2 separate regions of the Homo sapiens genome follow, and region 1 is linked to region 2. Evidence: fine-mapped expression QTL. A gene starts in region 2. The other region holds a variant in brackets. All regions are shown on one strand. Distances are between the middles of the regions.

Evidence for each region. PIP is the estimated chance that this variant, and not a neighbour inherited with it, causes the effect.
Region 1: its variant is fine-mapped to the expression of MMP2-AS1 in whole blood (TOPMed, PIP above 0.99). The same link has a PIP of 0.9 or more in esophagus mucosa, ileum, lung, macrophages, monocytes and monocytes after LPS.

The regions. Positions count from the first base shown.
Region 1 is chr16:55,424,219-55,429,738 of GRCh38, reverse strand. MMP2-AS1 (MMP2 antisense RNA 1) reads left to right here. Exons shown (of 7, transcript NR_147198.1): 5 at 259-378; 6 at 2,155-2,238; 7 at 2,769-2,942. Among named protein-coding and RNA genes, the nearest start is that of MMP2-AS1, 35 kb to the left of the region's middle. The variant A/G (reference allele first, on the strand shown) is at 2,922.
Region 2 is chr16:55,459,438-55,464,437 of GRCh38, reverse strand. It overlaps MMP2-AS1 (MMP2 antisense RNA 1), which reads left to right and starts at 2,141. Exons shown (of 7, transcript NR_147198.1): 1 at 2,141-2,263.

The sequences.
Region 1 (5,520 bases), 35 kb after region 2:
ATTCATGCATTTGTTTGACATATATCAAACACCTCCTATATGCCTGGCACTGTGAACTAGACAGGCTAAGTCCCAGCTATTTTGGAGCTACCAACCCAGGGTCAGAGGAGGGGCTATACCTTTGGTCCCAGACCCCTAGTGCAGTGCTCCTTCTCTGCCCCTTCTCAGAAGGTGTTTTTGTAATCCCCATCTACACCCTACCCTCATGGGTGACTTGGGCACTTAGTGTTGCATTAACATCGTTTCCTTTTAATAAAGCAGCTACATTTTCACCCCATCCCGGGCTCCATGTTCCTGCTGCACACACATCAAGAATGCTGCTAATTTCAGCGTCTGCCTTCCAGACCCAGACGTCAAAACAACTACCTTTCATCTCAGGTTTGTAACACAGAAAACCTTCAATATTGGGAACAGATAACCTCGAAGGTGGGTTCATATCTCTCAGCACGATTGCTGTAACTTAACTCTGCTGCACCCGATCAAGGCTTTCTCTCTGCCTCATAGGTATTTTAATACAAATGTTCCTTTCATTTGGCTGATTGAAGGTCTCCAACCTGCAATAAATGAAACATCTGATCCCCTTGAATCCAAATAACTTTTTCTTTGATTTTCTTTTACTTCTATTTCTTCGTCCTTTGTTCTACAGCCCGAGTCAAATTTCCCTTTAGAAATTGAAAGAATGTGTGTGGGTTTTTCCTGCTTTTTTTTTTTTTTTAACCAAGCTCTAGTGCAACCGCTGGTTCATGGACTAGAATATTAAGATCCAATTCAATGGCAGACTGTCTCCAGCAATGTTGTATTTTTATTTTTTTTTGCCGTCATCCCCCCCACCCACTTGTGAGCAATGGTTGTACAAATTAGCCTCTGTGTACTAGTCACCGAAGCTGGCTTCCCAATTAACCCCAGGCTTGAGAGAAAATAAGACTAAAGATTCTTCCCCTCCTGAAAGAACTAAGTTATCCATGCACAAAAGCCTACATGTTGGCACCTGGCTATGGAGTTGGGCATTTAATTGCCTTTGTAATGACTCAGTCCATCTGCATGGTATTGGGTCCCCAGTTTCAGGTAATGGGCCAGAGGGGTCTTATTAGTCTCTGGAATGACCAGGCCATGTGTATTCATCACTTCGAAAGGCAAGCAGGGTCTGTGAGAAGCTGGTGAAGCTCTTTGTGTGTTCACATCTCTGATTGTGCCCTGTGTCCACACTTAGCCAGGACACCTACCCACTTAGTGGTCTTGGCTTTGTTTCTAGGGTGAGGGCTTGAGCTGTGGGTAACAGTGCTGATTATTACATGCTAGTAAGATTGTCTCCCTCTTTGAAGTGGTAGAAAGGTTTGTCCCTTCAGGGTGATTGGGTGAATATCAGAAAGCAACCACAGGAACATTTTGTTGTACTTTGCTAAGGTCTAAATATTTGTCTCCTCCCACCAAAAATTAGTGGTTGAAACCTCATCCCCAGTGTGATGAAATGAGGAGGTGAGGCCTTTGGGAGGTGACGAGGTCTTGAAGGCAGAGCCTTTATGGATGGGATTAGTACCCATATAAAAGAGACCTCAGGGAGCTTGTTCACCCCTTCTGTCATGTTGAGTACTCAGCAAGAAGATGCCATCTATGAGGAATGGACCCCCACCAGACACCCAATCTGCCAGTAACTTGATCTTGGACTTCCCAGCCTCCAGAACTGTGAGGAATCAGTTTCTGCTATTTATGAGTTACCCAGTCTATGGCATTTTGCTATGGCAGCCCAAATAGACTGAGACATACTCCTTAACCTTTGACCCACTTCTGTTTAGGCCCAGCCAGCCTTCCTGAGCCTGTGCATAGTCTTCCTGGCTCAAGGAACTCTCTCTACCGAGGTGTGATCTCCTAACTCCTGGCACTCATTTACCTATCCATGGTTGGTAGTCAGCCTCCAAGATGCCTGCAGTCATCCCTGCCTCCTGGGATTCATATCCTCCTCCACATTGTGCCAGGATTGGGCTCTGTGGCCAAAAAGAAAACAGCAGATGAGAGGACGTGTCTCTTCTCAGAAGGGTTAGAAAAGACTGTGGCTTCCATTTTAGATGACTTTCTCTCTCTCTCTCTCTCTCTCTCTCTCTCTCTCTCTCTCTCTCCTCTTTTCCTTCTTCTCTTCCTTGGATCTCTTGCTCTGAGGAAAGCAAACTACTATGTTGTGAGCAGCCCAATGGAGAGGCCCACAAGACAACGAACTGAAGCCTCCAGCAACAACCCTGTGAGGTCAGTTTGGAAGTGGATTTTCTAGCCCCAATTGAGCTTAAGATGACTTCAGCTTCAGCAGACAGCTTGACTGCAGCCTTTCTAGAGAGCAAGCACCACCCAGCTCTGCTGCTTCTAGACCCCTGACCTCAGAAATTGCACGAGATAACATGTTTGCTGTTTCAGGCTGCCAAATTTAGGGGTAAGCTGTTATGTAGCAATAAATACCAGCACACCATGTGAGCTCGTCTCTCGAGGGACTCTCTGAGGCTCCTGATGTTCCTGGTTGGCTCCCTCAATCTATGTGCTTGTTGTCCCTTAATATGTATTTTCAGTTCTTCCTTCATAAGAAACACCCTTAGCTTTTAAGTGGATCCTTGGCTGCCTGGAATAAACACTACATTGCCCCAGGTTTTTTGGCAGTTAAATGTGATCATGTGACTTAACCGTATTCTAGTCAATGGGCATATGTGGAAGTGGTGTGTGCAACTTCTGGAGAGCACCCTTACTAGGCGGATGCACCTTTCTTTCCACTTTCCTCCTTCCTGCAGGCTGGAACTGCCCATAAAGGCTGGCACCCCAGCAGCCACCTTGAGAAATGCAGTGATGATGCTGAGTGGCAAGGCAGAAGGCACAGGGTCCCTGCACCTGAGGATTGCTGCTCCAAACCTGGGCCACCAGCCTGAAGATCCCGCCAGGGAGAA[A/G]TAAAGCTCTGTTTTGCTGAAGCCACTGCTATTTTGGGGGTCTCATCTCTTCCAGCTGATTCTAACCTGAAATTGAACCTTAATTCAATCTGGCTGATCCATGAACAACCATCACGCCTTGTGCTCTGTGTCAGATAGGTTTCTTAAGGGAGAATGTCACTTACTGACAGTGATTTGTCAACACCAAAGAGGAAAAAATATCAGAGAAAGGTAAGAGGGAGAACAATAGAGAGAGAAAGAGAGACAGAGACAGAGGGGGAGAGAGAGAGAGAGAGAGAGAGAGAGAGAGAGAGAGAGAGCAGACTTGGTTTAATTTCCTCTTTTCCCTTATTACTTTCTGACATTTTCTGACCTTAATACCTTTGAAACTTAGCACTTCCCTCAGAAGCCTCCACTGTAAACAAAGCCCCAAGATTTCCCTATAATTTTCCCCTCCCCATTGGCCCATCAGTCCCCATGGGCTTCTGCTTACCAGGATGCCCAACTATTCCCCTGCAAACATCCCCCTGCCCAGTGGGCCCTAACACTCACTAGTAGCATTGCCTTTCCCCCTCTGTTCTGCCCTCCTCCAGAGGCTCCCCATTCTCTGGATCTAATGTTGTCCCAGAAGTTTACCCCTCCCTGTCCCACCCAGGCGACCTCAAATTCTCCTAGTGGCTTCCAATGACCCAGTTGTGCCCAGAAGCTTCTCCCTAACAGCTTAGGCTGTCACAGCCTTCCAGAGGCCTCACCCATCTTAGTAGGGTCTATTGCTCCTGTTCCTTAAGCCCTAGCAGTCCCTCCACCCAGTAGGCCCTGAAACTGTAATGCAGTCCTCTCAGGCTGAGGACCTGCTCTGTGCAAAGGCCTGAGAGGGAGGTGGAGAGAAGCCAGGCAGAGGCCAGATATATTAGCAGTTTTCCTAGAACAGTTGCTAAAATAGAGCAGACAGGGGCTATGGGAGTTGATCAATAGATATTCATTGAACATCTACTTTGTGCTGCGAATGATTTCAGTCATGAGGGACATAGCAGACCATAAAACAGAACAGGGGAAGCCTTCTTTAGAAGTGGTCCTGGTATATTTCTGTCAATTGACATATATTCACAAATTCACGCATCCACTTAATACGTATTTATTGAGCTCCTTCTGTATACGAGGCACTGTTCTTGTTGCTGAAAATACAAAACTGAACAAAACAGAAAAGCTCCTGCCCTTGGGAGCTTATGTTCTAGTAAGGAAATGAAATAAACAACAAACAGCGAGTGCCTTCAGTCTTATGTTCCCAGAAGAAGATGCTGAGACAAGGGTTGAAGTGCAGGTAATTTATTAAGAAAGAGCTCCCAGGAGATATCCATAAGGGCATAGGGAAACAGGGCAAGAGAGGGGGAAGAAGCCCAGCAAAGGTGCAGCTTCCCAAAGTCCCAACCTCTGCCTGATCCTGTGGAGAGCTCTGGGGTATAAATTACATCTCAGGGTCTGTCTGTCTTTGAAGCAGGGGTGTCAGGCTTTTATACTCCCACATCCATTGGCTACAGGCTGGAGGGGTGAGGGGGAGTAAATTTTGGGTACTTTTTCTCCTCTCTGCATGCCATGGGGACAAAGCAGCTGCAGAGGTTCATGGGCCAGCACAGGAAGGAAGTTCCAGGTGTGAACCTTTTAGAAGTAAAATACGTAGGGCCAGGTGTGGTGGCTCACGGCTGTAACCCAGCATTTTGGGAGGCCGAGGGTGGTGGATCACCTGAGGTCAGGAATTCAAGACCAGCCTGGCCAACATAGTGAAACTCCATCTCTACTAAAAATATAAAAATTAACCAGGTGTTGTGGTGCATGCCTATAATCCCAGCTACTTGGGAGGCTGAGGCAGGAGAATAACTTGAACCCGGAAGGCAGAGGTTGTAGCGAACTGAGATCATTCCACTGCACTCCAGCCTGGGCAACAAGAGAGAAACTCTGTCCCAAAAAAGGAGAAGGAGAAGGAGAAAGAGAAGGAGGAGTAGGGGAAAATGTGTGTAGAGGCTGGGGGTGAGCACACAGAATAAGTAAAAGGGACCTGAGGGATGCATCCATGCAATAGATTATCATAATATGATGACAGGTGTGAGAAGCATTGAGGATTTCACCACTCCTGACCCCTCCTCCATGCACAGGGGCATCCGGAGGATCTCCATGTCTCTATTCCCCTTACCTTGCTCTGCCCCAAGGGAGGTGACTTGGCTGATTGATAAGGATTCTAGGAGGAATAAACTGAATGTGAGCAGCTCTGTCCTGTCCTCATTCCTTGTCTTATTTTGGTCTCCTTAAAGACCTAGGGTACAGAAGGAAGGGCAGTGACTGGGGGATTCCTTAGGAAACCAGCATTCTGAAAAATAATGACGTGGGCAAGAGAGTGGGAGTGGCTGGTGGTCTTCCCCTTGGGGGAACTGAGAAAGCTGCAGTGAGAAAGGGGCCATGGGGATGTCAGGGAGGCTCAGGCCAGGTAGGGGAGCAGCCCCTGCACAGGCCTCAGGGTGGGGGTGTGCTTGGCACTTTTGAAGATTAGCCAGCGCAGGTGGAGCAGGGTAAACAAGGAAGAGTGTGATAGAAGATGGCATCAGAGAATGAAGCAGGAGCTGAGTTG
Region 2 (5,000 bases):
GTGATCCTTGCCACAGCCCCTGAGAATGCATTATTATTATGGTCATCTCTTTATGCATGAGGATACCAAGGCACAGAGAAGTTAAGAAACTCACTCAAGGTTACACAGAGAGTGAGTGTTGACCCAGGCAATCTGCTCTGGTGCCCACACTCTTAGGCTGGTGCCATCCAGTGCCCCCGGAGCAAGCAAGATTTGGCTTCTGCACCCTCAATGACATCAGTATTTTCTCTGGGCATCCTCGGCCAAAGCACCGTCCCTCTGGGGCTCTCTGTCTCTATATGTTTATTTGCCTGGTAAATGCTTATTAAGCCCTGTGCTGAGTGCTGGATATATAGCAGCAATTAACCGCAGTCATTGCTCTTGTGGCGTTTGCATTCCAGTGGGGAGACAGGCAATACAGAGCAAACAGACTCATACACAAGGTAATTTTAGATGGCTAGGAGACCTGGGAGGGATGAGGTCAAGATTATCTGATGAGGGCAACTTGAGAATGGGTCGTCAGGGAGGGCCTCTTGGAGGCCCTTGTTAGGTGTGAGTCCTGAAGGAGGAAAATGAAGCAGTCACATGCAGAACAAGGGGAAGAGTGTTCCAGGTAGAGCAGATGGCAAGTGCAAAGGCCCTGGGGTGGGAACAAGCTTTTTTGTATTTGAAGAACAGAAGAAGGCCACTGTGGCTGGAGCAGAGCGACAGGCACAATGAGCTTTTGTGGGTTTGGTTGGCGAGCATGTGTCCCCATCTCCTTGGGAGTTGTCCCTCCTCCCCACTGAGGACAGTGTTTCTGGGAAGGTGGATTGGGTTACTGTCCTGCCCTCTTCAGAAGCCAAGACAGTTCTAAGCCTTCCTCCTACTACCCTGCCAGGGTGGGGCTGTAATCTAGGCTGAGCCAATGGGACACTCATATGGTTTTTTTTTTTTTTTTTTTTTTTTGAGACAGAGTTTCACTCTTGTCACCCAGGCTGGAGTGCAATGGCATGACCTCGACTCACTGCAACCTCTGCCTCCTGGGTTGAAGCAATTAGCTTGCCTCAGCCTCCTGAGTAGCTGGGATTACAGATGCCCACCACCAGGCTTGGCAAATTTTTATATTTTTGGTAGAGACAGGGTTTCACCATGTTGGCCAGGCTGGTCTCGAACTCCTGACCTCAGGTGATCCACCTGAAAGTGCTGGGATGACAGACGTGAGCCACCGTGCCCGGCCCACTCATATGACCTCGCGTGACATAGATACAGATGGAACAATGGCAGCCCAGGCACAGCAACTGCGGGACCCTGAGGCCTGGTGTTCCCACCTTGATGTCTGCTCCAGTTGCCTGGCTCCCTTATCCTATTCTAACAAATCCCCCTTCGCTTATGTTGCCAGAGTTTACTTCTGTGGCCTACACCCAAATGACCCTACTGATGCAGTGGAGGAATGAAGGCAGATGAAGTTGGGCCCAGATGCGCTAGGCCTGGTTGGCCAAGCCAAGGAATTGGGTTGTGTTCCAAGGAAAATGAGGTCCCTGGGGATTTTTCTGGCACTGCCCTTCTGAGATGCTGTGATTCTGTGTGGGTGGCTTCCCACCTATGGGCATGACCTTAATCCACCAGCCCCTGTCCAGAAGCTCTCCCCTGCCCACCCAGGCCCAGGTCCCCACCACACTCTACCGCTAATGCACAATTGCCCTCCGCAGGCACCCAGGCAAGGTGAGCTTGGGATTACTTGTGTATTTCCCATGCACCCCCAATAAGGTCTCTCTATGGCTCAGATAAACATCTCTAAGATTTTATCCCTACCATACACTCCACCAAATGAAGAGTAAAACGAGAAGGGAGGAGAAATAGACAATCAGAACGTTCATCTTATATGTTGTGGAGCCCAGGAAGGGGACTGAGGAGGGGTCAGGGAGCCAAGGTTCAGCCAGTGCCCCAAGTGCCTCCTGCCCTTGAATTCCGAAGCATCAGGAATCAGTCACGGTAACAACAGCCAGCTGGTGACCCCAATCCCTCTGCACAGCAACAAGCCTTGGCTCTTGTTTTTCTAAGAATCCAGTCAATCCTCTTTCCTGTAAGTTGCAACCCAGTCCTCCCCCCAGGCCGGGCTGAGGACACAGCTTGTCTTCCCGATGGTGTCACCTAGAACTCTGGTTCCCCTGCTCCCTTTCTCTTCAAATAGGAAAATTGGCACAGCTTGACTTTCTTCCACTGCCCTCCCAGCCACAGCTTAGACACCTACAAACTCCCACCGCAGGCTGGAGTGCCCTGGAGCCCTAACTGTGATACCCAGGTCAGTTTCCAAATCTGTACCTTTCTGCGTCTCCTGTTCCAACTCTCAGTGAACTCAGCTGGTTCCTGCCCTTCCTCCCCAATGACCAGCCCTGAGGAATTGACAGCTAGGCCACAGCCGCCTCTTCCTCCAGCTTGACCCTAATTGGAATAAGTACCTCTATCATGGAATCCCAGAGGGACTTACGGTGGGGTTGTAGGCAGTGAGCCATGATTGCACTACTGCTCTCCAGCCTGGGCAACAGAGTGAGACCTTCCAAGAGAGAAAGAGAGAAAGAGGGAAAGAGAGAGAGAGAGAACAGAAACAGGAAAAGAAAGAAAGAAAGAAAGAAAGAAAGAAAGAAAGAAAGAAAGAAAGAAAGAAACCATTTAACATTTAAAGTTTACATTTAACAAGGGCTTACAATATGCCAGGTGTTTTACAAGTATTCATTAATTGATTCAAAAGACATTTATTGAGGGGTGTAAAATGATTATCTCTATTTTATAGATGAAGAAACTGAGGCACACAGAGGTGAAATAGCTTGCACAAATGTTGCTTAGCTGGTAAGTAGATTAGTCATGGCAAAGCTAAGCTAGGCAGCCTGCCTTCTTTTTTTTTTTTTTTTTTTCCGTGATGGAGTCTTGCTTTGTCATCCAGTCTGGAGTGCAGTGGCGTGATCTCGGCTCACTGCAACCTCCACCTCCCAGGTTCAAGCGATTCTCCTGCCTCAGTCTCCCAAGTAACTGGGATTACAGGCATGCGCATTTTTTTTTTTTTTGTATTTTTAGCAGAGACAGGGTTTTGCCATGTTGGCCAGGCTGGTCTCAAACTCCTGACCTTGTGATCCACCCACCTCAGCCTCCCAAAGTGCTGGGATTACAGGTGTGAGCCACCATGCCCAGCCCTTATAGTCTTAATAACTGAAAGACAACAGCTTCTAGAAGGATTTTGTAGCTCTCAGCATTGCCTGCCATGTCTGCACTGGGCAAGGCCTTTCCCGGGCAATTTCCTTTCCCATGACAGAAAATGGGTGGTGACCACTCTATCCTGATGTTGTGTGGTCAGCTATCTGGCTGTGGGTGCAAAAAGGATGCACTGAGACCAGGTTTTGAAGGCATTTACAGACACATGGAGCTCTTGGAAGGCTCCTCAGCTTGTCCTCTGGAGTGGTTCTCAGAGGTGGATGATGCCGCAGAAGCAGAAATGCTGCAGGTTCTCGCTTGGAACCTTCCATCCAGTCCAGGCCTGGAGGAGCAGCCATCCAGGCAGGAATTGCAGGAAAGGCTACAATCCGTAGAGAGATCTGAAAATGAGTCTATCTTAGTGAGGCAGCAGTTGGGAGCAAGAAACAGAAGCCCCCTTAGACTAACTAAGGAGAAGGGAGTCGGAGTATGATTACAAGAACCCTAGGAGGCCAGCGGCGGGGCTTGAAAATCACGGGCTCAGGCTGCACTCAGCTCTTTCTCCCTGCGGTCTCTGTTCCCCAAGCTCCCCTCTCTGCAGCCACCCTGGGCAGCTCACTCTCCCTATCCCCTGACCCCTCACAGTGGCTCCGTGTGATCTCTCGGTCCACTCAGCTGTCCTTCCAGGTCCCTGTGGAGAATCCCTGAGATAGGAACATAGAAGGTGTGGGGGCCAGAGGGGGTGCAGAAGGTGAGGCACCATTTCATCCGTAACAGCCATGACCAGAAATGCTAGTAAATGCTTTTTGAGGCTTGTTTCATCGTGAGATTTTGCTTCAGAGGCCATTTGGGCGTTTTTCAGCCCTGGCCTCTTTGGCTGCCGGAAATAAGATCCCACTCTAGCAAAGGGAGGTCCTTTTTTCTTCTTTTACAATTCCACATCTTTCCAAGGGTGATATTCAGTAAGCCCACCTCAGATGGCATCTGAGAGTGTTAGATTTTGCTCATCTGATGCTGAGGATGGTGTCTGAAACACAGTCAGTGCTGAGTAGTTGTTGTGAGCAGGAGCGGTTGGCTTCCTGCATATCCCAATGAAATCAGCCCGGGGGCTGCAGGGTGCTTTTCGGAGGGGCCATTCCCCAGGAGAGTGAGGATTGTGGGGATCCCAGTCAGTCCTGTCTCTCTGAATTCAGCCAGCTGCTTTCCTGAGCTCCCAAACAAGGCCGTTTTTTCAGCATCTATTACATTGGTGCAAAAGTAAATGTGGTTTTACTCAATGGTAAAACCACAATTACCTTTGCACCAACCTAATAGGGTTCCAAGACCTTGGGTGTCACAGGCCCAGGCAAATGAAGCTGAGGGCCAGGGGTGAGAGGAGATGGCTGGATTGGAGACTGGTGCATGAACTGGGCATAAGCACTGCAGGAGGGAAGCTGGGTGGGGCCTGGGAGAGCTGCTTTCGGGGATTCTGAGGCTGCAAAGGAGTCTGTGGTTGGAAATAACCCCCAAGAAAAGGACAGACTGGTGTCAGGGTGTGAAATGTCCTTAGACCTCTCCTCTGCCCCACCCCAGTGACCTAGAACTCAGCTAGTTTTGATGCTTGTTGAACCAGAAATGCTGTTGACTGAGTCTCTGAACCCTCTATTTTTTTGTAGGGGGAGGGAGGGAGTCACATAGAGCTGCTTTTTTTTTTTTTTTTTTTTTTTGAGACTGAGTCTCGCTGTATTGCCAGGCTGGAGTGCAGTGGTGTAATCTCGGCTCACTGCAACCTCTGCTTCCCGGGTTCAAGTGATTCTCCTGCCTCAGACTCTTGAGTATCTGGGATTGCAGGTGTGTGCCACCACACCCAGCTA